Homo sapiens: one gene and its partners. The protein of the gene in region 4 interacts with the protein of the main gene of each other region in a pairwise test. Each region holds a gene or a part of one and is shown on either strand. Other genes may lie near its edges.

Region 1 (3,500 bases), on a different chromosome or scaffold from region 4:
CACACCCGGCCTGTTTGTTGAATAAATGAATGAAGAGGAATGAGCTCACACTTTATGCCATCTGTAATAGCCAAGTACGGAGTCAACACTTTAAACTGGCAGGCATGGGAAAGTGGAGTTTCTCATACTCTTAAGAAGGCGACCTAGCAGTATTTAGGCAAATCAGACTGGCCCTTGGATAGTGGGTACCTGATAAGAATGGATGTGGGTGAGGGTGCAGATTCAAGGATGTTGCTGAGGCAAATGCTACGTTGGTCCTTCCACATACAAGTTACACACCTGCTAAAGAGAAAGATGTATGTTGTGTCAGGTCACCAGATGGGTGAGTGAAAATGCAGCATGGGGCCAGCATGCAGGGGAAAATCTCATTTTGTAAACTATGACCCCGAGCCCATGAAGGGTATGTGTGTCACAAGGACCTGGGACTGGTTCACCTGCCTCACTTGGGCCAGCTGCATTGAGGCCCCACCTATAAATCCAGATGACACACTCCTCTGAAGGCCTGGAGATCATGTGGTTGGTGAGAGGAGAGCGCTAAGAACAGGCTTGGCTCAGAGGAGGATGCTGCTGGATAAGGTGTTATTATCTATTTGATTAACACACAGAGGAAATACTCCAAAGGACAATACCAGGCTGTCAACAAGTGTGTGGCAAGGAGAAGTGAAAGGGAAAGACTGCCACCTGGGGTGAGTCTTAGAAAAGCATCACACAAAATGCAGTATCAGGTCTCTATTGAAAGATGACCATCACATATTGCTAATTAAAAAAAAAATCGGCCAGGCGCAGTGGCTCATACCTGTAATCCCAGCACTTTGGGAGGCCGAGGCGGGCGGATCAAAAGGTCAGGAGTTCGAGACCAGCCTGGCCAACATAGTGAAACCCCGTCTCTACTAAAAATACAAAAAGTTAGTCAGGCATGGTGGCAGGCACCTGTAATCCCAGCTACTCAGGAGGCTGAGGCAAGAAAATAGCTTGAACCTGGGAGACAGAGGTTGCAGTGAGCCAAGATTGTGCCACTGCACTCCAGCCTGCATAACAGAGCAAGACTCTGTCTCAAAAAAAAAAAAAAAAAAAAAATCCTATCACAAAGTCTGATTGTATTCTGGTAATAAATGAACAAAAATGGCTGGGCATGGTGACTCACACCTATAATCCCAGTACTTTGGGAGGCCAAGGTGGGAGAATTGCTTGAGTTCAGGAGTTCAAGAACACCCTGGACAATATAGTGAGACCCCGTCTCTATAAAAAAATTTAAAAAATTAGCTGGTTTGTAGACCTAGGTACTCTGGAGGCTGAGATGGGAAGATTGCTTGAGCCCAGGAGGTCAAGGCTGCAGTAAGCTGTAACTGCACCACTACACTCCACCCTGGGCAACAGAATGAATCCCTGTCTCAAAATAAATAAATAAATAAATAAAAATTAAAAAAAAATATGAACAAAATACATTTTAAAAGTGGTATTAACTAGTTTAAATTTTTTCCTTACTTACACTATGGCAGATAAAGGTTTCAGTTTCCTGGAACGAGCCTGTAACAGGATACCAGGCCAGGCAAACACCATGGACCTCAACCTAAACCTTGCATACTCAAGACAGGAAAATGTAAGAGCTATCGGGGGTGCCAGAAACTGGCTTTTAACAACACACTCCATCCACACTTCACGGGATTCTGACGTCCAACTCCAAGCTTTGCTCCATGAGAACACAGTTCAGGCAGGGAAGGAGGATGATGTGGACAGTTTTAAAAAATTAAGACAGGCTAATGACGAGTCCTCTATAGATGCCAGGCTCCAGGGCCAGGGGCTGGGACAGGCTGGAGATCACCGCCACAGAATACTGGAAGTGGAGTTTGAGGAGCCCCCTCTTGAGGCCATGCCAACAGCTAACAAATGGGCAATATAAAGAACACCCACTCAGGGCACTGGCTGAGCAATGATCCCTCCCACCCACTGGTTACAAAGGTGGCAGCATAAGGAGCTAATTTTTCAAACTCAGGAATTTCAATCTTGAAAATTTCCCTAAGGAATAATCCAAAACAAAAACAATAGATCAACGTTATTAGCAGCAACTGGCTTTCCAGTTTTCTTTAGGTGATCAAAAGCCACATCGCAGTGAGACATTCCTATCACTCTTTTTGGAATTCCTGACTGTCTTGATGTGACAAAGCAGTGTGCCTGTCATTCCAGAGGACCCTGCACATGGTCACACACTGGGACAGGCACATTTGGAGTCTCCTGATCTGGGATGAGCTTCCAGGATCTCCTCCAGGGCCACTGCCTTCTCCTGCTCCTCATCATCCTCACTCCCTGGACTTTCTGCTAACAAGCACTGCTCCCTCTTCATCACCAAGGAGCCCCTACCCGCTAGGGTGAAAGCACTTTCAAGAGAGGCAGCTTCTGAGCCACTTGTGAGCACAAGGCGAAACACTGCTAAACTTGACCTAATCTAAACTAACCCTAACTAACCTAAACTAACCCTAACCTGCAACCTTTCCAGAATTAATGATCAGAAATATGTATCCAAATTGATAGCTTTCTGGTCGGGCACAGTGGCTCATGCCTGTAATCCCAGCACTTTGGGAGGCCAAGGTGGGTGGATCACCTGAGGTCAGGTGCTGAGACCAGCTCGGTCGGGGAGACCCTAACCCAGCGGCGCTAGAGGAATTAAAGACACACACACAGAAATATAGAGGTGTGAAGTGGGAAATCAGGGGTCTCACAGCCTTCAGAGCTGAGAGCCCTGAACAGAGATTTACCCACGTATTTATTAACAGCAAGCCAGTCATTAGCATTGTTTCTATAGATATTAATTTAACTAAAAGTATCCCTTATGGGAAACGAAGGGATGGGCCGAATTAAAGGAATAGGTTGGGCTAGTTAACTGTAGCAGGAGCATGTCCTTAAGGCACAGATCGCTCATGCTATTGTTTGTGGCTTAAGAATGCCTTTAAGGGGTTTTCCACCCTGGGCCGGCCAGGTGTTCCTTGCCCTCATTCCGGTAAACCCACAACCACAACCTTCCAGCGTGGGCATTATGGCCATCATGAACATTTCACGGTGCTACAGAGATTTTGTTTATGGCCGGTTTTGGGGCCAGTTTATAGCCAGATTTTGGGGGGGCCTGATCCCAACAGTCAGGAGTTCAAGACCAGCCTGGGTGACATGGTGAAACCCCGTCTCTTCTAAAAATACAAAAATTAGCTGGGTGTGGTGGCACGTGCCTGTAATTCCAGCTCCTCCCAAGGCTGAGGCATGAGAATTGCTTGAACCTGGGAGGTGGAGTTTGCAGTGAGCCAAGATCGCGCCATTGCACTCCAGCCTGGGCAACAGAGTGAGACTCCATCTCAAAAGAAAAAAAGCAAATAAACAAACAAACAAAACAAAACAAAACAAAACAAAACAAAAAAACAACCAAACTGATAGCTTTCTTATATACCAGTAACACCTAATCAGAAAATATGAATGGAAAAAAATCTATTCAACAAATAGCAACAAGAAACAAG
Region 2 (3,500 bases), on a different chromosome or scaffold from region 4:
TATGCAACCACATGGATGAACCTTGAGGACATTATGCTAAGTGAAGTAAGCCAGTCACAGACATAAACTGCATATTTCTATTTATATGAGGAATCTAAAATAGTCACTTCCACTCATATGAGCTATCTCAAATAGATTGAAAGAGTGGAATACGGGTTGCTAGGGGCTGGGAGGGAGGAGGAAATGGGCAGTTACTAATCAGTGGGCATAAAGTTTCAATTGCGCAAGATGAATAAACTGGAGGTCTGTACAACATTGTACCTAGAGTCAACAATAGTGTACACTTAAAAATGTGTTAAGTGGGTAGATCTCATGTTCTTATTACAATAAATGTTAAAAGGTTTCATTGAACATGTGACATTAGAGTTGGACCTTTAAGGGGTGGGTGGTAGGATGAGTATAACCAGAGATGAAATGATTAAGCATCCAACTAGGAGGGTGTTAATAAAGGCAAGTCAGGCTGGGTGCGGTGGCTCACGCCTGTAATCCCAGCACTTTGGGAGGCTGATCGGGCAGATCACTTGAGGTCGGGAGTTTGAGACCAGCCTGACCAACATGGGGAAACCCCATCTCTACTAAAAATTCAAAATTAGCCAGGCGTGGTGGTACATGCCTGTAATCCCAGCAGCTCGGGAGGTTGAGACAGGAGAATCTCTTGAATCTGGGAGGCAGAGGTTGTGAGCCAAGATCACTGTATTGCACTCCAGCCTGGGCAACAAGAGTGAAACTCCATCTCAAAATAAATAAATAAAGGCAAGTCAGCTATTAGAAAGTGCAGGGTTTGTTTGAGAAATAGTATATAGTGTGTGTGTGATGTCGTTTAAAATTTGGAAAGGTAAATAGGAAAATAATGTGAAGGGCCTTGAAATAAAGTCAGAGAGGTACTAAATTTTGTTTGCTAAGTTGTGAAAAGCTATTGAAGATTTTGGAGCTGAGTTGGCACAGCTGTAATCTCCCTGGCAAGAAATGTAGCATGTCTGACATGTAATAGCCAATTCATATATTTGAGTGATAGAATCTTACTGTTCTCCAAGAGCCTCAGGAAATTTAAAGTAGTTTAAGATTTTCCAGCTAGGTAGTGCTGAAATTTGGCTGTAATATTATTGTATTGCTAATGAGAATTTTTCCAGAAAATAGTTTTCAAAAATAAATACTCAACAAGCTCCAAGCCCTGGGCTTTTCTTTCTTTACTAAACATTGTAAGATTTGAGTCAATATGATTACATGCTCTAATGTACATCTTCTTTACAGGTGTTAGTAAAATGGCCTTTCGCCATTTAATTGAGTTCACATATACAGCAAAATTAATGATACAAGGAGAAGAAGAAGCCAATGATGTATGGAAAGCAGCAGAGTTTCTACAAATGCTAGAAGCTATCAAAGCCCTTGAAGTCAGGTACTTAATTTCTTTAATGGGGTTCAGATAGTCATATTCAGTCATGTTCATTCTGTTAGTGAAGAACTTACAGTATGTGTCATGCCATGAAGAACAGAGTTCTTCAGAAGAATTAAGAATATTTAAGGATCTATTAAAAAATTTTCTGGATACTGATTGTTCTTTCACTTGACTTTGATTTTCTGATCATGTGTTAAAACTGCTAATATTAAAGTAGCATCTTTGGTATGTAATAAAATAAATCTAGACAGCTTTTTAAGGATCTGGATCCTTATAAACTGTTTTGTTGGATTCAAGTTATTGTTTATACCAAGCCTTATCCTACAAAGGGTTTGGCTTACAAAGATTAACATAATACTGTTTAAAAATAAGGAAATAGATGGAAATAAATAAATTGGTTTAATAAGGAGATAATCATTTCAAGTTAGAAGTATGATAGCCAAAAATGCATACCATAAGTCTATAGTAGATGTGCTAAATCTAGCTCTAAGTGCACCTAGTTCAAAGAAAAAGACTATTCAGTTACATTATTCCTTGTTAGAAGATGAGAACAAATCAATTGCTGAGGAGCCATTCCTATTCCTAGTATTAAAATTTCTCCTGAGAAGTATTAAGAAAACATTAGGCCAGGCCCAGTGGATTACGCCTGTAATCCCAGCACTTTGGAAGGCTGAGGTGGATGGATAGCTTATGCCCAGGAGTTCACAAACAGCCTGGGCAACATGGTGAAACCCTGTCTCTACAAAAAATACAAAAATTAGCTGGGCATGGTAGTGCATGCCTGTGGTCCCAGCTACTCAGGAGCTGAGGTGGGAGGGGAGGATCACCTGAGCCTGGCAAGGTTGTGGCTGCAGCGAGCTGTGATCACGCCACTGACTGCATACCAGCTAGGGGGAACAAAGTGAGACCCTGTTTTTTTAAAAAAGAGAAAACGTGAAAGGATATAATGAACAAAGACCTCAACATCCTTACTTGATGAATAATGGCAGTGTAACATAGTTACTAAGAATAAGAGCTCAGGAGTCAGTTTCCCTGGGTTAACATCCTGCTTCTACCACTGTGTGGCCTTAATTAAGTTACTTAACCCTCCTGTCAGCTGTGTCCTCCTCTGTCAAATGAGAGTAATAACGGTACTTTCTACATGGGATTTGATTGTGAGGGTTGAATGAATTAATGCATGCAAAGTGTTTAGCATGGTGTCTGGCTAAATGACTCTGAGTACTCTAAGTATGAACTATTATCTCCTGGTACTGTTTTTTATGTTTCTCAATACAGATCATTGGCCTGATGCCAAAACAGTTTGGTAAAATCAGTTTCACATAGCGGCACAATGATTTAATCTTAACTCACTGTTGTGGTTTAGTTAAAAGATAAAATTTATTTCTCTGAGGACTCTACTGGAATTTTATTTTATTTTATTTTTTTGAGATGGAGTCTTGCTCTGTCTCCCAGACTGGAGTGCAGTGGCACAATCTCGGCTCACTGCAACCTCCATCTCCTGGGTTCAAGCAATTCTCCCTGTCTCAGCCTCCTGAGTAGCTGGGATTACAGGTGCCTGCCACCATGCCCAGCAAATTTTCGTATTTTTAGTAGAGGTGGGGATTTCGCCATGTTGCCCAGGCTGGTCTCAAACTCCCAACCTTAAGTGATCCGCCTGTCTCAGCCTCCCAAAGTGCTGGGATTACAGGTGTGAGCCACTGTGACTGGCCGAATAAAAGTTTTTTTTTAAGAGATAAAAATTTAGATAACTCTAAGAATACTGAACTGTACTCGTCCATAAATATCATCTCTTAGTTTGACAGTTCAAGATTAAACCTTTCTGACAAGAGCTTGATACGTATATATATTCTTTGATGCTTAGCACCTGGCATATAGCAGGTGTACAGGAAACATTTGTGAATAGATAGATGGATACATGCTAATTAAAACCAGATCAGTACTCTTGCAGAGAGACCTGAGCATGGATGTCAAAATAGAGATGCATTCTGAGGATATAAACCTGATCAGGCCATCTCTTCTCAAAAAGATTAAAGGAAATATATATGGATGGGGCGATGTCAGATTGTGGTTAAATATTGAATGAGAGCCTTCCAAAAGAATGTTC
Region 3 (2,610 bases), on a different chromosome or scaffold from region 4:
CAAGTTTATTTCAGATACATGAAAGAACTCACACTGGAGAGAAACCCTATGAATGTCAGGAATGTGCAAAAGCTTTCATTTCTCTTCCAAGTTTTCAAAGACACATGATTAGGCACACTGGAGATGGACCTTATAAATGTCAGGAATGTGGAAAAGCCTTTGACCGCCCCAGTTTATTTCGAATACATGAAAGAACTCATACTGGAGAGAAACCCCATGAATGTAAACAGTGTGGGAAGGCCTTCATTTCTTTCACAAATTTTCAAAGTCATATGATTAGGCACACTGGGGATGGACCTTATAAATGTAAAGTATGTGGGAGAGCCTTTATTTTTCCCAGTTATGTTCGAAAGCATGAAAGAACTCATACTGGGGAGAAACCCTATGAATGTAATAAATGTGGTAAAACCTTCAGTTCTTCCAGTAATGTTCGAACACATGAAAGGACTCACACTGGAGAGAAGCCCTATGAATGTAAGGAATGCGGGAAAGCCTTCATTTCTCTCCCAAGTGTCCGAAGACACATGATAAAGCACACTGGAGATGGACCTTATAAATGTCAGGTATGTGGTAGAGCCTTTGACTGTCCCAGTTCATTTCAAATACACGAAAGAACTCACACTGGAGAGAAACCCTATGAATGTCAGGTATGTGGGAAAGCCTTCATTTCTCTTAAAAGGATTAGAAAACATATGATACTGCACACTGGAGATGGACCTTATAAATGTCAGGTATGTGGTAAAGCCTTTGACTGTCCTAGTTCTGTCCGAACACATGAAAGAACTCATACTGGAGAAAAACCCTATGAATGTAAAGAATGTGGGAAAGCATTCAATTATGCCAGTTCCATTAGAATACATGAAAGAACTCATACCGGAGAAAAACCCTATGAATGTAAGCAATGTGGAAAAACGTTCAGTTATTCCAGTTCCTTTCAAAGACATGAAAGAGCTCATAATGGAGATAAACCTTACGTAAAGAATGTGGGAAAGCTTTCATTTATCACACAACCTTCGAATACCTGTGAAAATGAATAGTGGAGGACAGGTCTACAAGTATCTACATATCTAAAGAATATGGAAAGTCTTCAGTTTGCTTTCTGGGTTTCAGACTTGTTTGGGAGCTCACCCCTTTCTCCTGTTTCTCACTTTTGGAATAGGAATCTCTATCCTGTGCCTGTCTCATATTTTGGAAATACATGACTAGTTTGGTTTTCACCGGTTCGGAGCTGAAGAAGAATTTTGCCTCAGCATGAATTGAGTCTCATCCATATCTGAGTGATGTGATATTGAGATGACACTTTGGAGTTTGAGTTTAAACATTAGGCTTCATGCTGGAATTAACTGAGACTTTTGAGGCCTTTGGGATGAGATGAATATATTTTACATGTGATGACATGGATTTTGGGGGCCAGAGGTGTAATGTTTTGGCTGAGTGTATGCCACCTCAGATTCATATGTTGAAACCTTACCCCCGTGCCCCCCCTCTCCCCCACAATGTGATGGTATTTGGAGGCCCTGTCTCTGGTGGTTTTTAGGATTGGAGGACATCATGAAGATGGAGGCCTTGTAATTGGGATTAGTTTCCTGATAGGAATCCCTAGAGAGCTAGCTTTGCCCTTCACCATGAGAGGGTGCAGTGAGAAGATAGCTATCTTTGAACCGGGAAGCAGGCCCTTACCAGACATGGACTATGCCAGTGCCTTGATATTGGACTTCCCAGCCTCCCAAACCATGAGAAATAAATGTTTGTTGATTAATTAAGCTTTCCAATTTATGGTATTTTGTTTTAGCAACCCAAGCTAAGACACAATCCAATTTTAAAATGGAGGAAAGGACTTGAATAGACATTTCTCCAAAGAAGATACCCAGATGGCCAATAAGCACGTAACAATGCTCGACATCTTTAGTCATTAGGGAAATACAAATCAAACTCAAGACATACATAGCATCTCATTAGGATTAGTAGTATCAAAGATGGAAAACAAGAAATACTGTCAAGGATGTGGAATGTTGGAGAACATTGTGCACTATCACTGGGAATGTACAGTGGTATAAGCCTGCTGAAAACAGTATGGCAGATCCCCAGATTAAAATATAGAAATAACATATGATCAGCATTTCCATTTCTGGGAAAATAAAAAGATTGAAAGCAGGGCCGGGCGTGGTGGATCACGCTTGTAATCCCAGCACTTTGGGAGGCCGAAGCAGGCGGATCACAAGGTCAGGAGATTGAGACCATCCTGGCTAACATGATGAAACCCCGTCTCTACTAAAAAAAAATTAGCCGGGCGTGGTGGCAGGCGCCTGTAGTCCCAACTGCTCGGGAGGCTGAGGCAGGAGAATGGCATGAACCCGGGAGGCAGAGCTTGCAGTGAGCTGAGGTCGCGCCACTGCACTCCAGCCTGGGTGAGAGAGCAAGACTCCGTCTCAAAAAACAAAACAAAACAAAAAAGATTGAAAGCAAAGTCTCAAATAGGTTTTGTACACCTGTGTACATAGCATCATTCACAATAGGTAAACTCTGGAAACTACTCAGGTTTTCATCAACAGATGAATAAACAAAAGGAAGTTTATACATACAAGAGAATATTACTGAGTCTTACAAAGT
Region 4 (3,500 bases):
TTTAGTTTTCTTCTTTCCCCTCATTTTTCTGTGCTTAGTTGTACTTAGAATATGTCCTGGGGTTATACGGTTTGGGACACTATTTCTAGAAAGCATAACCAAATAGAGGATTTTGTCTAATCATTCAGCCATCCTAACGTGATGGCCTTATTACCTTGCTCAGAGCCAGCTTCAGCTTTTGTTGAATCTGGCCAATGAAGCCACGTTATCACGTGATTGGTTTCTAAGAGCTTTGTCAGCCTCCTCCACTTTAACTTGGGCCTCACTTGAACCATACTGTTTCTTTAAAAAGTAGTCGAATTTGAATCTTCGGTGAGGGTCTGATCTCTGTCTCCTTAATGTGATTCCAGGGTATAGTTCAAGAAATTGATTTTGAGAAGTTACATTAAAGGAGAAAATGTTAGGGTTTGGGAAGAGGTTGAGATGCCCTAGGCTTGGGTCTTTATTTATTTCATGTTTTCTCCCAGTAATCTTAGTGCTATTATTTGCTTATCATCCATGGAGTGAGGCTAAAAGAGTTATGTAATTCATATGTAATTTCCAAATACTCCATTTGGAATGGTGAAGTGAAAGGGTGAATAGCATTCTATTTCAGATACATTCTTCTTAAATAGGATAATGAACTTTTGTTTCCATCCTAACAAACTTATTTGATGTCTTCATATATAATTTAGTAGTTCATACAGAAAATTGCATCAAATTTCTCTACTTTCCTTGATTAAATTTATAGCTTGCTTATCTATGATGCTATCAACATTACTTCCTAATAAATGTAAATTAATTATGTACTACTTAATTCCCTTAATGTTATTCAAAACATTAATAAGCTGACTGCAAGAGTAATGTTCTGTATATACATAAATTATGCTGTTCATAAAACTAATTATTACATGTCTAGCATTTTGATGCTCATGAGTTTTTCTTAATTTTATTAGTAAGCCTTGTACAAGTGGCAAATATAAAAGCAATTCTTCCGGAATTTTACAAATAAGAAAAAGTAGAAGCATCTGGCAACTTTAAGAAAGGGCTGAACCAACATGTGAGATGTATGTAAACTGTTCCAAAAGGAATATGTTTACTCCCTTAGGTCATGAGGGTTGTTTGCAGTAAGAAAGCCATTCATGAAGCAGGTCTTTGACACCTGTGTTATCTGGTTTCATAGGTTTCTGACAAGTCAGTAGAATAAGAGCTGGCATTTGTTGAGTGCTTGACTGTGTGCCAATTACTATTCTAAGTCCTTTATGTGTGTTACCGTATACAGCCCTCACCTTACCTTCATGGGGTCAGATATTAGCATCAGCCCCACTTTGCAGACAAAAACTGAGAAGTGAGAAGTTTAACCGCTTGCCCCAGGTCACCCAGCTAGTAAGCAGCAGATCTAAGATTTAAGCACAGGCCAGGGCCATCTGTCTTTAGAGTCTCTGCTTTTAACCTCATGAAACTAAGTTTGAGTTTATCTTTGGTAAAGAATATGATCAGGAACATCAGCATCACTCTCTGAAGAAGCCACAACATTTGAAATTCCTTTTCCTTGAAATAAACAGAGATGGAAGAAAGCCAACCTGCTCAACTGCTTGTTTTATAAATAAGGCAAATGAAGGCCCCCCACCCCTGAGGTGAGTTAGTCACCCATGGTGACACAGCAGTGGGGGCAGGGAGGACCAAGTCTTTTGCTCCTCAGTCCAGAGCACCTTTCACTGCATCAAGCAGCTTCATTTATCCCTGATAGTTTAAGAGGTTAATCCTATCTCAAAGGAGGAGAAAATATGGTAGCTATATCTGGAGTTTGTTCAAATGAAGCAGTTCAATGTGATGGGTTTTAAAAATTACACTTGGTGATTTATGGGTAGATTTCTCAGAGCTTTTTAAAAAAATAATTGATTAATCTTAATTGACAAATAAAAATTGTACATATATTATATAACATGTTTTTGTATATGTATGCATTGTGGAATGGCTAAATCAAGGCAATTAACATATCTATTACCTTATCATATGCTTTTTTGTGTGTGTGGTGAGAACATTTAAAAATCTATTCTCTTAGCAATTTTCAAGTATATAATACATAGTTGTTAACTATAGTCACTATGTTGTACAATAGATCTTGAAATTATTTCCCCTGTTTAACTGAAATTGTGTATCCTTTGACCAAGAATACCTAGCTTTTAAAGTGACATAATAATCAGATTAATGCCAATTTTCCGAAGACGTGTGACAATATCAGAATTCCCAATGGTACATCAGTTCAAATAGCTCAATTTTAAAGAAGCAGTACTTCAGGGCCTATAGATATTTAACAATTAGATGAAGAAATAGTAAAGTGAGTTGTAAGTTTTTGCAGGCATTTCAGCCTCTGGTGTCTCAATCACAAAGTTAAAAAAAAGATTAAGATAGTTATTAGACATTTCCTGTGGACTGATGAGTCTAAATTAAATATATAATATTTAGATTACTTTTGGGTAAAATTTAGATTACTTTTGGGTCAGATTATTTACTTTTGATCATCCTCATGTTTTTGTGCAGAACAACGTTGTTTTTCCATCTCAACTTTAAAAAGCTGGGCCCAGTGATTGATCTGGAACAATCTATGAAAAAAATCACTTAGGCACATGAATCTGTGATATACCAGAATTGAAACTCAAGTTCAGGGCTTGTGTAGGCTTTTTGCAGATCAGTATTAGCCATCTGGATCTCCAGAGAATTTTGAAACTTATTTTGAGTTGTTAATTTCCTTATTTTCTCATTGAAGTCCCCTTTTTTTTTCTGTCCCAATTCAAGATAAGTGTTGTTATAAAATAAATGGACTGTGATTGCAGATTTTACTTGGGAGATTCTGGAGCTCCAGGTATTGTTGGATATCTGAAAGTCCCATTTTCTAACTAAAATCAGTGGAGATCTCTTGGCTATAGGAATTGTCAAATTTGTAGAAGGCAGGAGAGCAGGGTAATTAAAAGCATGGACCCTGGAGCCGAGTGGTGTGGGATTGCTAAGGCAAGTTCTTGCAAGGGCCAGGGAGGTGATCTAGCTGAGTGATGCAGACAGGGTGCAAGGGACAGAGAGGGCATGCCCCATGCAATTGGACAGCCACGAGTTCCATATGATGGTGACCCTGCTGGGGAATGTGGAGGCAGTCTGCTCACCCAATGGCAGGCTCTTCCTCTACTTTTAGCTGCAGAGATGGATTTTACATTAGTTATTTCCAAACATGTTCAGGCCAAACATCAACAGCCTGCTTGCCAGATGTAGCCCGTGAGCCAGTGTGAGATCCTGACACAGATGGTGCTCCATATAGACAAATAAGACCATGCTGTTTTTTTCTGGTGACACCCTCCCTCCCTTTGCAAGTCAGTGAAAGCCTGCCAAGGTGGGGTTTGCTGTGAAACTTTTTCTTTTGGTTGGAAAGTGCATGAAGACTCAACTTTTATTTTGCCACATATTTGAAGATGAAGAAGGAGGAAAGGGATAAAATGATCTTTAATTCTATGGTATATGAACAACTA
Region 5 (4,160 bases), on a different chromosome or scaffold from region 4:
AGTCACATATCCCCTGCTTGTTCAATGGATCACGACCCTCTCACGGGGACCCCCTTAGAGTTGTGAGCCCTTAAAAGGGACAGGGATTGCTCACTCGGGGAGTCGGTTTTTGAGATGTGAGTCTTGCCGATGCTCCCAGCCGAATAAAACCCTTCCTTCAACTCGGTGTCTGAGGGGTTTTGTCTGTGGCTTGTCCTGCTACAACAGGACATGTATGAAGTCACGTGGAGCACAGAATAGACCATCAGAAAGTGAGAGAGAGGTCTGGGGGAGAGTTGGTGACATTTACTAGATAAAGACCCTAGGGGAAGCAGATTGGGGCAAGAAAGGGATGAGTTGGATTTGAGTAGAGGAGCCTTGGGCCATCTGTCCAGGGGCAGGATGTGAGGGGAGGTGAGAGCCCGGCTGCAGCTACAGGGAGACTGGCAATTGGGAGGCGTCCTGAGCAGCACATGGGAGAAGCTCCTAGAAGAGAGGACCCTCTGACTTTCTCAACCTTACCCTACTCTCCCCACTGCCTCCGCCATCTAGAAACTTCCAGAATTTCAGGCCCCAACAAGCCTACGATGGAGGAGGTTCTCCTGTATCCACTCCTTTTTCTTTCTTTCTTTCTTTTTTATTTTTGAGACAGAGTTTCGCTCTGTCGCCCAGGCTGGAGTGCGGTGAGGCAATCTCGGCTCACTGCAAACTCCGCCTCGCGCGTTCAAGCGATACTCCTGCCTCAGCCTCCCCAGTAGCTGGGATTACAGGTGCACGCCACCACACCTGGCTGTTTTTTTGTGTGTTTTTAGTGGAGACGGGGTTTCACCATGTTGGTGAGGCTGGTCTCGAACTTCTGACCTCAGTTGTTCCGCTGGCCTCGGCCTCCCAAACTGCTGATTACAAGCGTGAGCCACTGCGCCACGCCCACTCCATTGGTTTTTTTACACTCAACATTGGGAAGAGACTGCTGTTGCCCTGTTTCTGAGATAACAAGGACAAAACGAGAGAGTGATGAGCTGGAGCCCGATTATAAAACGGTCCACAAACGAAAACTAATGCCTGAGTTCAGTAAGGCCGGGAGGCCAGCTCACTCCCGCGAGGCGCTCTTTTGTTCGTGCAAACCGGGGCGGAGCTCTCTGCTGCACCGCCTCGCCGGGCCGGGGCGGAGCTCTCTGCTGCACCGCCTCGCCGGGCCGGGGACTAAACATGCGCGGCTAGTTTTCAAGGCCGGCCTCTGTATTAGTCACCGCGGCCATTTTGGATGAGGGTACGGAGAGAACGCGGACTGGAGATACCGGGGGCGTTGTCTTGGGCACGACTGCGTAGGGGCAAAGGTCGAGTACCCGCGCCGCCGCCATTTTTTATGAGGGCATATTCCATTTCTGATTATACACCCGCTGCCATCGGCACCGTTAGTTTCCACGCCCTCTAGTGCGCCCTCGGGGGCCCTAGTAACCTCCCTCCTTCCCTTGGGCCCGGGCCGGGGAGGCTTTCTCGGGCGCAGGAGGTTCCGCAGGCCCAGGCCAGGCCAGGGGAGGCAGCCGATCCGTCGTCGGGGTTGACAGTTACCATGGCGCCGCCTCTGGCCCCGCTCCCTCCCCGGGACCCAAACGGGGCCGGACCCGAGTGGAGGGAGCCGGGGGCTGTGAGCTTCGCGGACGTGGCCGTGTACTTCTGCCGGGAGGAGTGGGGCTGCTTGCGGCCAGCGCAGAGGGCCCTGTACCGGGACGTGATGCGGGAGACCTACGGCCACCTGAGCGCTCTCGGTGAGAGCCCCACCTGCTCGCCTGAGCCCTGCGCCCCCACAGGCCCTGCCGCGCCTCTGGGAGCTGCGCGTGAAGTTGGGGGCCCCGGGGCCGGGCAGGTGGCCTCCCCGCAGCGTGGGGTTTGCGTTCTTCTTCCCTAGGAATCGGAGGCAACAAGCCAGCTCTCATCTCCTGGGTGGAGGAGGAGGCCGAACTGTGGGGTCCGGCTGCCCAGGATCCGGAGGTGGCGAAATGTCAGACACAAACGGACCCAGGTGGAGTATCGGGTGCTCAGTCCCATGGGGACTTCTCTGTTCCTGTCCCATCCCGGTACCCTCTGCCACCTCCAGCTACCTGCTTAGCAGTTTCCTCTCTGAACTGCCTTCTCAACTGCGACGACGAGGCTGAGCCCCTGCGTGGCTCCCAGATGCAGCCTAGAAAGGAGCTGTGATGGGGGCTCTGGCCCTGCCATACCCGCCTCTGAGTCCTCACCTCTGCGTGGTCACTACACTCTGGGGGCTTTTTTTGGTGTTTTTGTTTTAGAGACAGGGTCTCGCTTTGTTGTCTAGGCTGAGTGCAGTGGCGGCATCATAGCTCACTGTAGCCTGGAACTCCCGGGCTTAAGCAGTCCTTCCACCTGGGCCTCCAGAGTAGCTAAGACTGTACAGGTGCTCGCCACGAAGCCTGGGTAATTTTTTTTTTTAGACAGAGTTTTACTCCGTTGCCCAGGCTGGAGTGCAGTGGTGCCATCTCAGTTCACTGCAACCTCCCACTCCCAGGTTCAAGTAATTCTCCTGTATCAACCTCCCAAGTAGCTGGGATTACAGGCGCCCGCCACCAAGCCTGCTTAATTTTTTTTTTTTTTTTTGAGACAGAGTCTTCCTCTGTCGCGCAGGCTGGAGTGCAGTGGCGCCATCTCGGCTCAGTGCAAGCTCCGCCTCCCTGGTTGACGCCATTCTCCCGCCTCAGCCTCCCCAGTAGCTGGGACTACAGGCGCCCGCCACCACGCCCGGCTAATTTTGTTTTTGTGTTTTTAGTAGAGATGGGGTTTCACCATGTTAGCCAGGCTGGTCTCGAACTTCTGACTTTGTGATCTGCCCGCCTCGGCCTCCCAAAGTGCTGGGATTACAGGCGTGAGCCACCGCGCCCAGCCAATTTTTTGTATTTTTAGTAGAGACAGGGTTTCACTATGTCGCCCAGGCTGGTCTTTAACTCCTGGAGCTAAGCGATTCGCCTGCTTCGGCCTTCCAAAGTGACCCACTGCGTCTGGCCTAATTGTTTTAAATTGTTATGTAATATATATATTTTATAGAGGGGGTCTTGGCTCTCGGTGTGTTGCCCAGGCTGGTCCTGAAATCCTAGGCTGATCCTCCTTCTCTACCTCCCAAAGCGCTGGGATTACCGCCTTGAGCCCCCACGCCCAGTCTCTTAAACTCTGTTGACTCTACCTCCACCTCAGGACCCACCCCTGCCGTTCACCTGCAGGCTGGTTCCTTTCTCCCCGTCCGCCCCCCTTTTTTTCTTTCATTTCTTGCCCTCAGCCTTTGCAGAGTATCCAGCCCCACTGAACTTGGCCATGCCCTCCTGGTTCTGCCTTTCTTGGTGCTGTTCCTGCTGCCTGGAACATCCTCAGGTGTCCGTTCCTCCTTCTGGATCAGGCCCAGATGTTCATGTCATCTCTGCCCTTCCCCCACCGTGACATTTCCCCAGCCCCGAGGCGGAATGGGCTGTTCTCTCCCTCCCGGCTCTGTCTGGCTCTGCAGCCGAGGAACAGGTGTCACTCCTCCATCTCCCAGGAGCAGCCGGGGATCCAGCAGGCCTGTCCCTGTCCACGCGGGCTGTGGGATTCAAGGACCAGGATGAGCCGAGCCTGAACTCTCCCCTCTTTATCTCTCAGCAGATTCCAGAAACAAGAAAAAGGAAAGACAAAGGGAAGGGACGGGAGCCCTGGAGAAGCCCGACCCTGTGGCCGCCGGGTCTCCTGGGCTGAAGTCTCCCCAAGCCCCCTCGGCCGGGCCCCCTTATGGTTGGGAGCAGCTGTCCAAGGCACCGCACCGGGGACGCCCCTCCCTCTGTGCCCACCCCCCTGTCCCCCGAGCTGACCAGCGTCATGGCTGCTACGTGTGCGGGAAGAGCTTTGCCTGGCGCTCCACACTGGTGGAGCACGTCTACAGTCACACTGGCGAGAAGCCCTTCCACTGCACTGACTGCGGCAAGGGCTTCGGCCACGCTTCCTCCCTGAGCAAACACCGGGCCATCCATCGTGGGGAGCGGCCCCACCGCTGTCTGGAGTGTGGCCGGGCCTTCACGCAGCGCTCGGCGCTGACTTCGCACCTGCGCGTCCACACCGGCGAGAAACCCTATGGCTGCGCCGACTGTGGCCGCCGCTTCAGCCAGAGCTCTGCCCTCTACCAGCACCGGCGCGTGCACAGC
Region 6 (4,076 bases), on a different chromosome or scaffold from region 4:
GAAACCCCATCTCTACTAAAAATACAAATTAGCCGGGCGTGGTGGCACACGCCTGTAGTCCCAGCTACTAGGAAAGCTGATGCAGGAGAATCACTTGAACCCAGGAGGCGGAGGTTGCAGTGAGCCAAGATCACGCCACTGATTCCAGCCCGGGTGACAGAGTGAGACTCCATCTCAAAAAAAAAAAAAAAAAAAAAAAAAAAGACTCAACTATGGCTATGGCTCTGTGTGTGTGTGTGTGTTTGTGTTCACATGGGTTATCATGTGTACTGTCATTTCAATAAAGATATTATAATCTTATTGAATTGAAAATATTTGCAATACCTAGCAAAATTCTTTACAGCTTTTTTTTTTCTCAATACAATCTGATGGTAAAGAATAGAGCATAAATGTGATGTTTAAGGCTCTTTTCATTCCATAGCCAGGGTATGAATGTCTAGGTAAAACTCAAAAATTGCATCAACAGTTTGAGGGTGAGTCAAAACATAAAATTTATCATGGCTATAGAAACAGAAAAAAAAAAATACATTGCCAATAAAATAGTTATTTCCCCTGGTAACAGAAATAAATTTCCTAATAAAAATAGAAGTTAAAAAGAAAATGAAAATTATACCTAAGCACTTTAAACATTTCACTGAACATAATTCCATATCCACAAACACATACACGTGGTCTTACATAAATTGAATCTCACCTATACTATGAGTTTGAAATCAGTTTTTCTCTTATTCTTTAAGAAAAAAAAAGGTCAGGGATATCTTTTCATGTCAATAAATAGGAAAACTACGTAATCATTTTTAGGGCTGCAGACTGTCCCGTCACAGAAGCTCCATAATTTATTTAAGCAATCCCCTATTGTAAGACACTAATGCTGTTTATAATTTTTTACTCTACAACAAACATTGATAAACATCCTGTACCAATCTGTTTACCAATTTATCCAATTCTCTCTTTAAAATAAATGTCTACAACTAGAGGAGCTGGATAAATGAGTATACAGAGAATGTATATTAAACTCTTGCCTTGCACAGAAAATTTACCTCTAACCCTTTTGAAAGCAATTTGCCAGAATGCATTAAGGTCCCTAGATGGTAGGTTGGTGGCGGGGTAGTGGTCTGCTGAGCTGTGGAGGGCGGTGGGGCTGAGGGTGGGGTGGAGAGGGCGGTGCCCCTGCTCTGAGGCAGGGACTACTGGGTGACAGAGACAAAGGGGTGTGTGATGGGGCAGGTCACAATGGGTAGGGGAGGATAAAAGTGGTCCTGCGGGGTGGTTTAGCAGCAGTGGATGGTTCAGGTTGGGAAGAAGAGCAGTGGGATTGCCAGTTAAGGTTGTGGAATCAAAGAGCAAAGGCTGTTGTGAAGTGGAATATCAGGCTCAAATGGAGGTCCCTCCCGAATGAGCACTGACACCTGTGTGCCCGGACATCCACGAGGGCCCCAACACCTGTGCTCCTGACAGCTCCATGCACTAAGCAGGGCACAGTCTGGATCCAGGGGACTGACTGTCTCTGGCATTGAGCGGTTGGTAATCAATACCCCACCCTCCCTGTTCTCAGTCACTTGGGGACAAAAAAGAAAGCCTGCAGAACACGACTGCTGGCCCACCTGCCAGAGTAGCCAAGGAAACAGGATGCCCGCTAAAGCATGTTAAGGAAGGTGTGGAGCAGCTGCTGGGAACTGTCTTGATTTAAAGGAAGACATGGAGGACTGCTGTATGCTACCGTATTACACGGCCCAAAGCAGCCCCGCAATGGGCATGTTTAACACCTCCATGGGGAAGCTGCAGCGGCAACTGTACAAAGGCGAGTATACTATATTCAGGTATGCACCCATGTTTGAGAGCGACTTTATCCAGATCAGCAAAAGAGGAGAAGTGATTGACGTGCACAACCGTGCCCGAATGGTAACAATGGGCATCGTTCGCACCAGCCCCTGCCTCACACTACCTGATGTCATGCTGCTGGCCCGACCAGCTGCTGTCTGTGACAATGCCAGGTGTGGTCCTGCCACCCAGAAAAGAGAAAGTCCGCCTGCAGAGATCTTAGAACTAACCAGGCTGCTTCCCTTGATGTTTGTGAAAATAACCATCCACAACAGCGTAAAAAAACAGCTCCACCTGAAGCTTGCCACGGGCCGCTCTTTTTATCTTCAGCTGTGTCCTCCATCGGATGCAAGTGAAGACCTTTTTGTTCACTGGGAAAACCTTGTTTACATCCTGAGACCACCAGTGGAGGCTTACAGTGATACCAGGGCTATCCTAGCTGGGAACACATTGGACTCATCTGTGTTGGAGGAAGTGCAGAGGAGCCCAGTGGTGAGTCTATGCAGAGACTAGATGGGGCCTGGATGCTTTGGGGGAGAGCAGGTACAGGTCCTGTAAAGCCTTTGGTGCTGCAGCTCACCTGGGAAATGCATTGCATTTGGAAGGTCTGAAGGCCAAATGAGCTTCCATTTGGAGGCCATGGTACATTGAGGAGGTTCCTAGTGCTTCTCCAGGGTTCTCCAAGCCTGAATTTCAGAGATTTCTTAGCTGTCAGCAACTCTTCATTTTATATCCACAGCTGTTCATTTTATATCAATGTTGTAATGCTGTCCAAAGCATCCTGACCAGTCTATTCTGAAACACATACTATGACCTAGGCAGGCTGATATGTTGTAGGACGTGTCTCCCTGCAATTGCCACTTATATACATTGGTGGCAACACAACATGTTTGTGTACTTGTGCAATAATTTCTTTTTGTTGTTTACCTATAGGAAGAGAAAGGAGATCTTGCTGGTCTCACTGTCTTTGCTTATTTGTTCTCTCCCTAGGGATATGCCATGAAGTTTTGTGAAGAGAAGGAGCAATTCAGAATCAGTAGACTTCACATGAATGCTGAAATGTTTGGGTCCACCTATTGTGATTATACAATAGAGATATGAATCCAACATACCTCCCACATATACTACGTTCAAGAGTTCACACACCCCTGCAGTCATAAAACCTATAGTGCCTGATGAAGGGGCAGGGTAGCAACAGCAGTAGTGATGACAGTAAGCACCACCACAGGTACCATGGATGTGGCTGCAACCAAGTCTGCAGACTCAGGAGAGAAACACAGCACTGGCAAAAGCAGCCTTCAGAGGTCCAGGAGGAAGTATAGCCAGCATGGCTATTAGTGGGTGCTTCCATGTCTTAATCTTGTTATAGCAAGGGCTGCATGCACATTCTTGTCCTAAAAGGGTACTTCAAGCATATCAGTAAGTGCTACTGGCCTCTCCCTAGAGAGCAGTATGAATGTGGTGGCTACAGGAGCAGAGAGATACTGAGAAGGCTGTTGCATTGACAGTATCTCTCTGCTACTCAAAGGCTGACTCTCTGCTACTCAGCATTGGGAGTCAGTTATCTCAACTCTGCAGGATGAGGCCACATGCGTGAATGGGATGGAAGCCAGAGGGTCTCTACCTAGCTGGATTGACTCTGCAGTAATAACCTCAAAGCCCAGTACTACACATGGTGCAGAGGTGGACATCTCACCTAAGACTGTGGAGGGGAACAATGTGATTCACCATAATAAAATCCATCAACTCAAATTATCTGCTCTAATAACATATGCTCTATTGACAGGAAGGGTAGCAATAAAACTAATGGCAATTTATGATCAGGCTCTGAAAACTATCTTTAACTTTCCCTTAACTTTATATTTTTTAAATAAATTAATAGATGACAGAATAAAATGTTGAAGATTACTCTCAGATATGATCCTACATTAGGAGAATTATTCTAAAACTGTTTTCCAAAATATAAAATGAGAACCCAGGAATACACACACACAGACTCTCTCTCTCTCTCCTCTCTCTCTCCAGGTTTGAATCACAGCATTGCCACACATTAACTGTGAGTTTCAGTAGATTGTTTCTTTAAATGGTCACCTTGAGACCATACATGTATAATATCTGGAACATAGTAGGCACTGTGTAAATGGTAGTGTTGAGAAACAAATTCTGAGTTTAATCATACTTTCCAGAAAGGGCTTAATTTTCCCAGTCTCTTCATTCTTGATTTCCTTTCTTAAATCTTAATTAACTGCTTTGCA
Region 7 (4,119 bases), on a different chromosome or scaffold from region 4:
GCCTCCCAGAATGCTGGGATTACAAGCATGAGCCACCACACCCAGCCAGGACTTTTTTTGTCTTACAAGTACTTTTATTAGCACCTAAACTTAACAGTGTGAATTTGAACATAATATGTATCCACATATAGATACAGAAATTATGAAGTTAAAAAATATAAAATTATAAAGTTATTTTTAAAAACTACTTCAAATGCAATTATCTATTTCAGTACTGTAGTTATTCCCCCCTTTAAATTTGTTTTGTGTTTTTTTTTTCTAGATGGAGTCTCGCTCTGTTGCCCAGGCTGGAGCACAGTGGCACGATCTTGGATCACTGCAAGCTCCACCTCCCGGTAAAAAAAATTTTTTAATCAGATACAGGGTCTTACTAGGTTGCCCAATTCCTGGGCTCAAGCAATGCTCCCACTTCAGCCTCCCAAGTTTGAGCCACTGCACCCAGCTCCTCCTTTATTGTAACATTCTTTTTTTTTTTTTTTTTCTTTTTTCTGAGAGGGAGTTTCACTCTTGTTGCCCAGGCTGGAGTGCAATGGCACCATCTCAGCTCACTGCAACCTCCACCTCCCGGGTTCAAGCGATTCTCCTGAGTAGCTGGGACTACAGGCACCCACCACCACTCCGGGCTAATTTTTGTATTTGTAGTAGAAACAGGGTTTCACCATGTTGGCCAGGCTGGTCTTGAGAACTCCGGACCTCAGGTGATCCACGCTCCTTGGCCTCCCAAAATGCTGAGATTACAGGTGTGAGCCATCGCCTCCAGCACCTATTGTATCATTCTTATCCCTCTGACCTTAAAAAAAAAAATTGGACTGGGCCAGGCACAGTGGGTCACACCTGTAATCCCAACACTGGAAGGCTGAGGCGGGTGGATTACTTGAGATTAGGAGTTCAAGACCAGCCTGGCCATCATGGTGAAACCCTGTCTCTACTAAAAATACGAAATTCAGCTGGGCGTGGTGGCATGCACCTGTAATTCCAGCTACTCGGGAGGCTGAGGCAGGAGAATCGCTTGAAACCAGGAGGTGGAGGCTGCAGTGAGCCAAGATTGTGCCACTGCACTCCAGCCTAGGGGATAGAGCAAGACCTTGTCTCAAAAAAAAAAAAAAAAAAAATGAAGACTTCTTGACTTCACTGCATTCGTTTTCCAAATCTGGCTACTCTATTTCCTAATTGCATGACTATGCATAAGTTAATTATCATGCACAAGTTCCTTAACCTCTCTCTGCCTCAGTGTCCTCATCAGTGAAATGTGGGGAATAATAGCACACCTACCTCACTGAGTAGTTGTGAGGAATAAATAAATTGATATACGCAAAATGCTTGAAATAGTGTCTGGAATGTAATAAGTGCTGTCTATGTGTTAGCTGTTATCTCCAGTTCCCAGCATAGTTTCTGGTACATAGTAGGTGCTAAATAAGTGTGTATGGTTTAATGAACTTACATTAAGGATTCATGGGAAGATGGGATGGGGAATGGGGAGATGGAGGAAGCACCCTGAGAAGTTGCCAGAAATCTAAAGAATGGAGCTCCATCTTTCTGCAAATGAGGACCAAAGACCAGTTTGCAGTAGGAGAAACGGAGGTTATGCATAGAAAACTTCTCAGTGGTTAAAGGTGAAAGTATCTGGGATGCGAACATGAGCAAGAGAACCACTTCTTTATAGGAGAACTTGATAAGTAAGAATGATCGTGAGGACTGAGATTGACTGAGACCAACAATAATGATAGCTCAAATGAACACGTTTAAAATTGAATGTGCCTGACACTGCTCTAAGCACTTTACATGTATATTTTTATATTTACTCCTCCCAGCAATCCTGAGGCAGAAACAATTATAAATCCTACTGTACACATGCTGAAACCAAGGTGCACCTATTTTAGGAAATGAGGTCACACAGCTAGTAAGAGGAAGGGTTTGCTGGGATTTGAATACAGATCTGACAGTGAGGCTCAAGCGCTTAATCACTAATCTATATTTCTGCATTTCAAAACAGTGCACACACATGCTCTTCATACCTCTTACAGAAAATGAGAGTAGTCAGCAGCCCATTGCCTACCTGTTAGAAGCTGGTCTCTTCACAGAGACGGAGGGAGCAGTGCTTAGCAGCTTTTTGTCTTGCTTGAGGAAGAGGTTCTGGATGAAGGTTTGCCAGGCTCCTGGGAGTTCCAAGCACCTTAAAACCCTGGAACTTGAGCCCCTGTTCAACACAGTTGCTCCTTTTGCACCTTTGAGGAAAAGCTTCTGTCCTGTGCTCAAAGAAGAAGCCAAGGTGCCAAGAACGACCCCCACCCCCATCAGTCCACTAAGCCATGTTAAGAGACCTGTGTCCAGCCCTGTGACTATATCTGTGGAAATCACTATTCCGGGACCAGGGGAAGATGCTGGGGTTGGGATGAGGGCTGGGAACCCATGAAGGGGAGTGGAATAAAGGGAGCAACCCAGGAATGATGACCTGGAAGAGTGCAGAAAGTGAGGTGCTTCATTTTTTCTCGATGCCTTTGAACCAGAGAGGTGTAGATTGATCGGTGGATATGAAGGTGTTGGACTGATGGGGATGGGGATGAACTCTAAATGTGGCTCAAAGATCCATAACTGCCAAGCTCGAGCTGCCTCCCTTTCCATATGCGCCTCATCTAAGCAGCATCCCCATCTCCCCTCTCCCCACAACAGAGTACTCACCTCTGCCCTCTGGTGCCTGAGTGCGCATTGCCTTTGCAAACAGACTTTCAGGTGGGAACTATCCAGGACTTCCAGCTGCTTCAAGAAACCGGACCTCTTCTGTACAACCCCCTGTCTGTCTGTCTGTCTGTCCTTTCCTTCTCAGTCCCCACCCCATCGGAAGCACAATTTCCCATTGTCTCTGTCTTTTCCCCTATTGTTGAATAACAGGGCCCCTTTCTTTATTCTGTGGGTAATGGCAATGAAATGTCAACAGCTGGGGATGTGGGATGCAGGACCGGCTGGCACATACCACCGGAAAAGGGCCTGGGTGGGGGGCGGGCTCAGAACAGGAATTGACATCCCCAAGAAGAAGAGAATAGGGTGAGGGGCAGAGAACGGATGGTGAAAAGGTTGAAATGGAATCTCTCTCAACACTCCAAATTACAGGGCTCTAAAGAGATTTTGTCTGAGGCCAGGGGAAAGGCTGGGCTCCATGAGGGCAGAGGGAGTGGCTAGCATTGCAATAGGAGAGATGGAGATTAGACAGCAAGGAGGATTTTTCTGTCCCTGGGGAGGAACATGAGAATTTCTGAGGACAGAAGGACTTTGGAAACCTCTCCAAAAGAGAAGTTATCTTATTGGTTCCCTAATATTCTACCTCTTCCCTCAGCACAAATAGATAACCTTTTTAAAGTACTCAGAAGGGGATCCTTAATCTTCCTGGATGGAAATTCACTTTCTCTCAAGTCTTTTTTTTTTTTTTTTTTTTTTTTTTGAGACGGAGTCTCGCACTGTCGCTCAGGCTGGAGTGCGGTGGCACGATCTTGGCTCACTGCAAGCTCCGACTCCCGGGTTCATGCCATTCTTCTGCCTCAGCCTCCCAAGTAGCTGGGACTACAGGCACCCACCACCACACCCGGCTAATTTTTTGTATTTTAAGTAGAGACGGGGTTTCCCCGTGTTAACCAGGATGGTCTCGATCTCCTGACCTGGTGATCCGCCTGCCTCGGCCTCCCAAAGTGCTGGGATTACAGGCGTGAGCCACCGTGCCCGGCCTTTTTAAAATTTTTTTTTTAAGACAAGGCCTCTATCTGTTGCCCAAGTAGGAGTGCAGTGGCCCAATCATAGCTCACTGCAGCCTCGAACACCTGGGCTCAAGAGATCTTCCCCCTTAGCCTCGAAATTATCTAGGACTACAGGCGCGCACCACCACACCCGTCTAATTAACTTTTTTTTTTTTTTTTTTTTGAGACAGAGTCTGGCTCTGTCACCCAGGCTGGAGTGCAGTGGCGCAGTCTCGGCTCACTGCTACCTCTGCTCTGCCTCCCGGGTTCAAGCCATCCTCCTCTTTCCTCAGCCTTCAGAGCATCTGGGACTACAGACGTGCGCCACCACGCCAAGATAATTTTTGTATTTTTTTGTAGAGATGAGGTTTCATCATGTTGCCCAGGCTGGTCT

What was found.
Region 1: the proteins of FHL5 (region 4) and ZNF250 interact in binary tests that used the Homo sapiens proteins (3 or more experiments, as listed by UniProt).
Region 2: the proteins of FHL5 (region 4) and ZNF131 interact in binary tests that used the Homo sapiens proteins (3 or more experiments, as listed by UniProt).
Region 3: the proteins of FHL5 (region 4) and ZNF564 interact in binary tests that used the Homo sapiens proteins (3 or more experiments, as listed by UniProt).
Region 5: the proteins of FHL5 (region 4) and ZNF764 interact in binary tests that used the Homo sapiens proteins (3 or more experiments, as listed by UniProt).
Region 6: the proteins of FHL5 (region 4) and GARIN6 interact in binary tests that used the Homo sapiens proteins (3 or more experiments, as listed by UniProt).
Region 7: the proteins of FHL5 (region 4) and HAPLN2 interact in binary tests that used the Homo sapiens proteins (3 or more experiments, as listed by UniProt).

The regions. Positions count from the first base shown.
Region 1 is NC_000008.11:144,894,954-144,898,453, forward strand, and holds part of ZNF250 (zinc finger protein 250), read right to left. Parts: intron 280-3,500; exon of another isoform or gene 190-279; intron 1-189. UniProt on the Homo sapiens protein: May be involved in transcriptional regulation.
Region 2 is NC_000005.10:43,137,914-43,141,413, forward strand, and holds part of ZNF131 (zinc finger protein 131), read left to right. Parts: intron 1-1,251; coding exon 1,252-1,396; intron 1,397-3,500. UniProt on the Homo sapiens protein: Plays a role during development and organogenesis as well as in the function of the adult central nervous system. May be involved in transcriptional regulation as a repressor of ESR1/ER-alpha signaling.
Region 3 is NC_000019.10:12,524,873-12,527,482, reverse strand, and holds the end of ZNF564 (zinc finger protein 564), read left to right. Parts: coding exon 1-1,037; 3' UTR 1,038-2,110; downstream 2,111-2,610.
Region 4 is NC_000006.12:96,611,628-96,615,127, reverse strand, and holds part of FHL5 (four and a half LIM domains protein 5), read right to left. Parts: intron 1-3,500. UniProt on the Homo sapiens protein: May be involved in the regulation of spermatogenesis. Stimulates CREM transcriptional activity in a phosphorylation-independent manner.
Region 5 is NC_000016.10:30,555,575-30,559,734, reverse strand, and holds the start of ZNF764 (zinc finger protein 764), read left to right. Parts: upstream 1-1,360; 5' UTR 1,361-1,552; coding exon 1,553-1,748; intron 1,749-1,888; coding exon 1,889-2,002; intron 2,003-3,624; coding exon of another isoform or gene 3,625-3,627; coding exon 3,628-4,160. UniProt on the Homo sapiens protein: Zinc finger protein that functions as a cofactor for steroid hormone receptors, such as NR3C1/GR.
Region 6 is NC_000012.12:99,646,477-99,650,552, forward strand, and holds GARIN6 (Golgi-associated RAB2 interactor protein 6), read left to right. Parts: upstream 1-1,276; 5' UTR 1,277-1,698; coding exon 1,699-2,313; intron 2,314-2,811; coding exon 2,812-2,922; 3' UTR 2,923-3,638; downstream 3,639-4,076.
Region 7 is NC_000001.11:156,618,096-156,622,214, reverse strand, and holds the start of HAPLN2 (hyaluronan and proteoglycan link protein 2 precursor), read right to left. Parts: upstream 2,801-4,119; 5' UTR 2,708-2,800; coding exon of another isoform or gene 2,680-2,707; intron 2,247-2,679; coding exon of another isoform or gene 2,057-2,246; intron 336-2,056; exon of another isoform or gene 287-335; intron 1-286. UniProt on the Homo sapiens protein: Mediates a firm binding of versican V2 to hyaluronic acid. May play a pivotal role in the formation of the hyaluronan-associated matrix in the central nervous system (CNS) which facilitates neuronal conduction and general structural stabilization.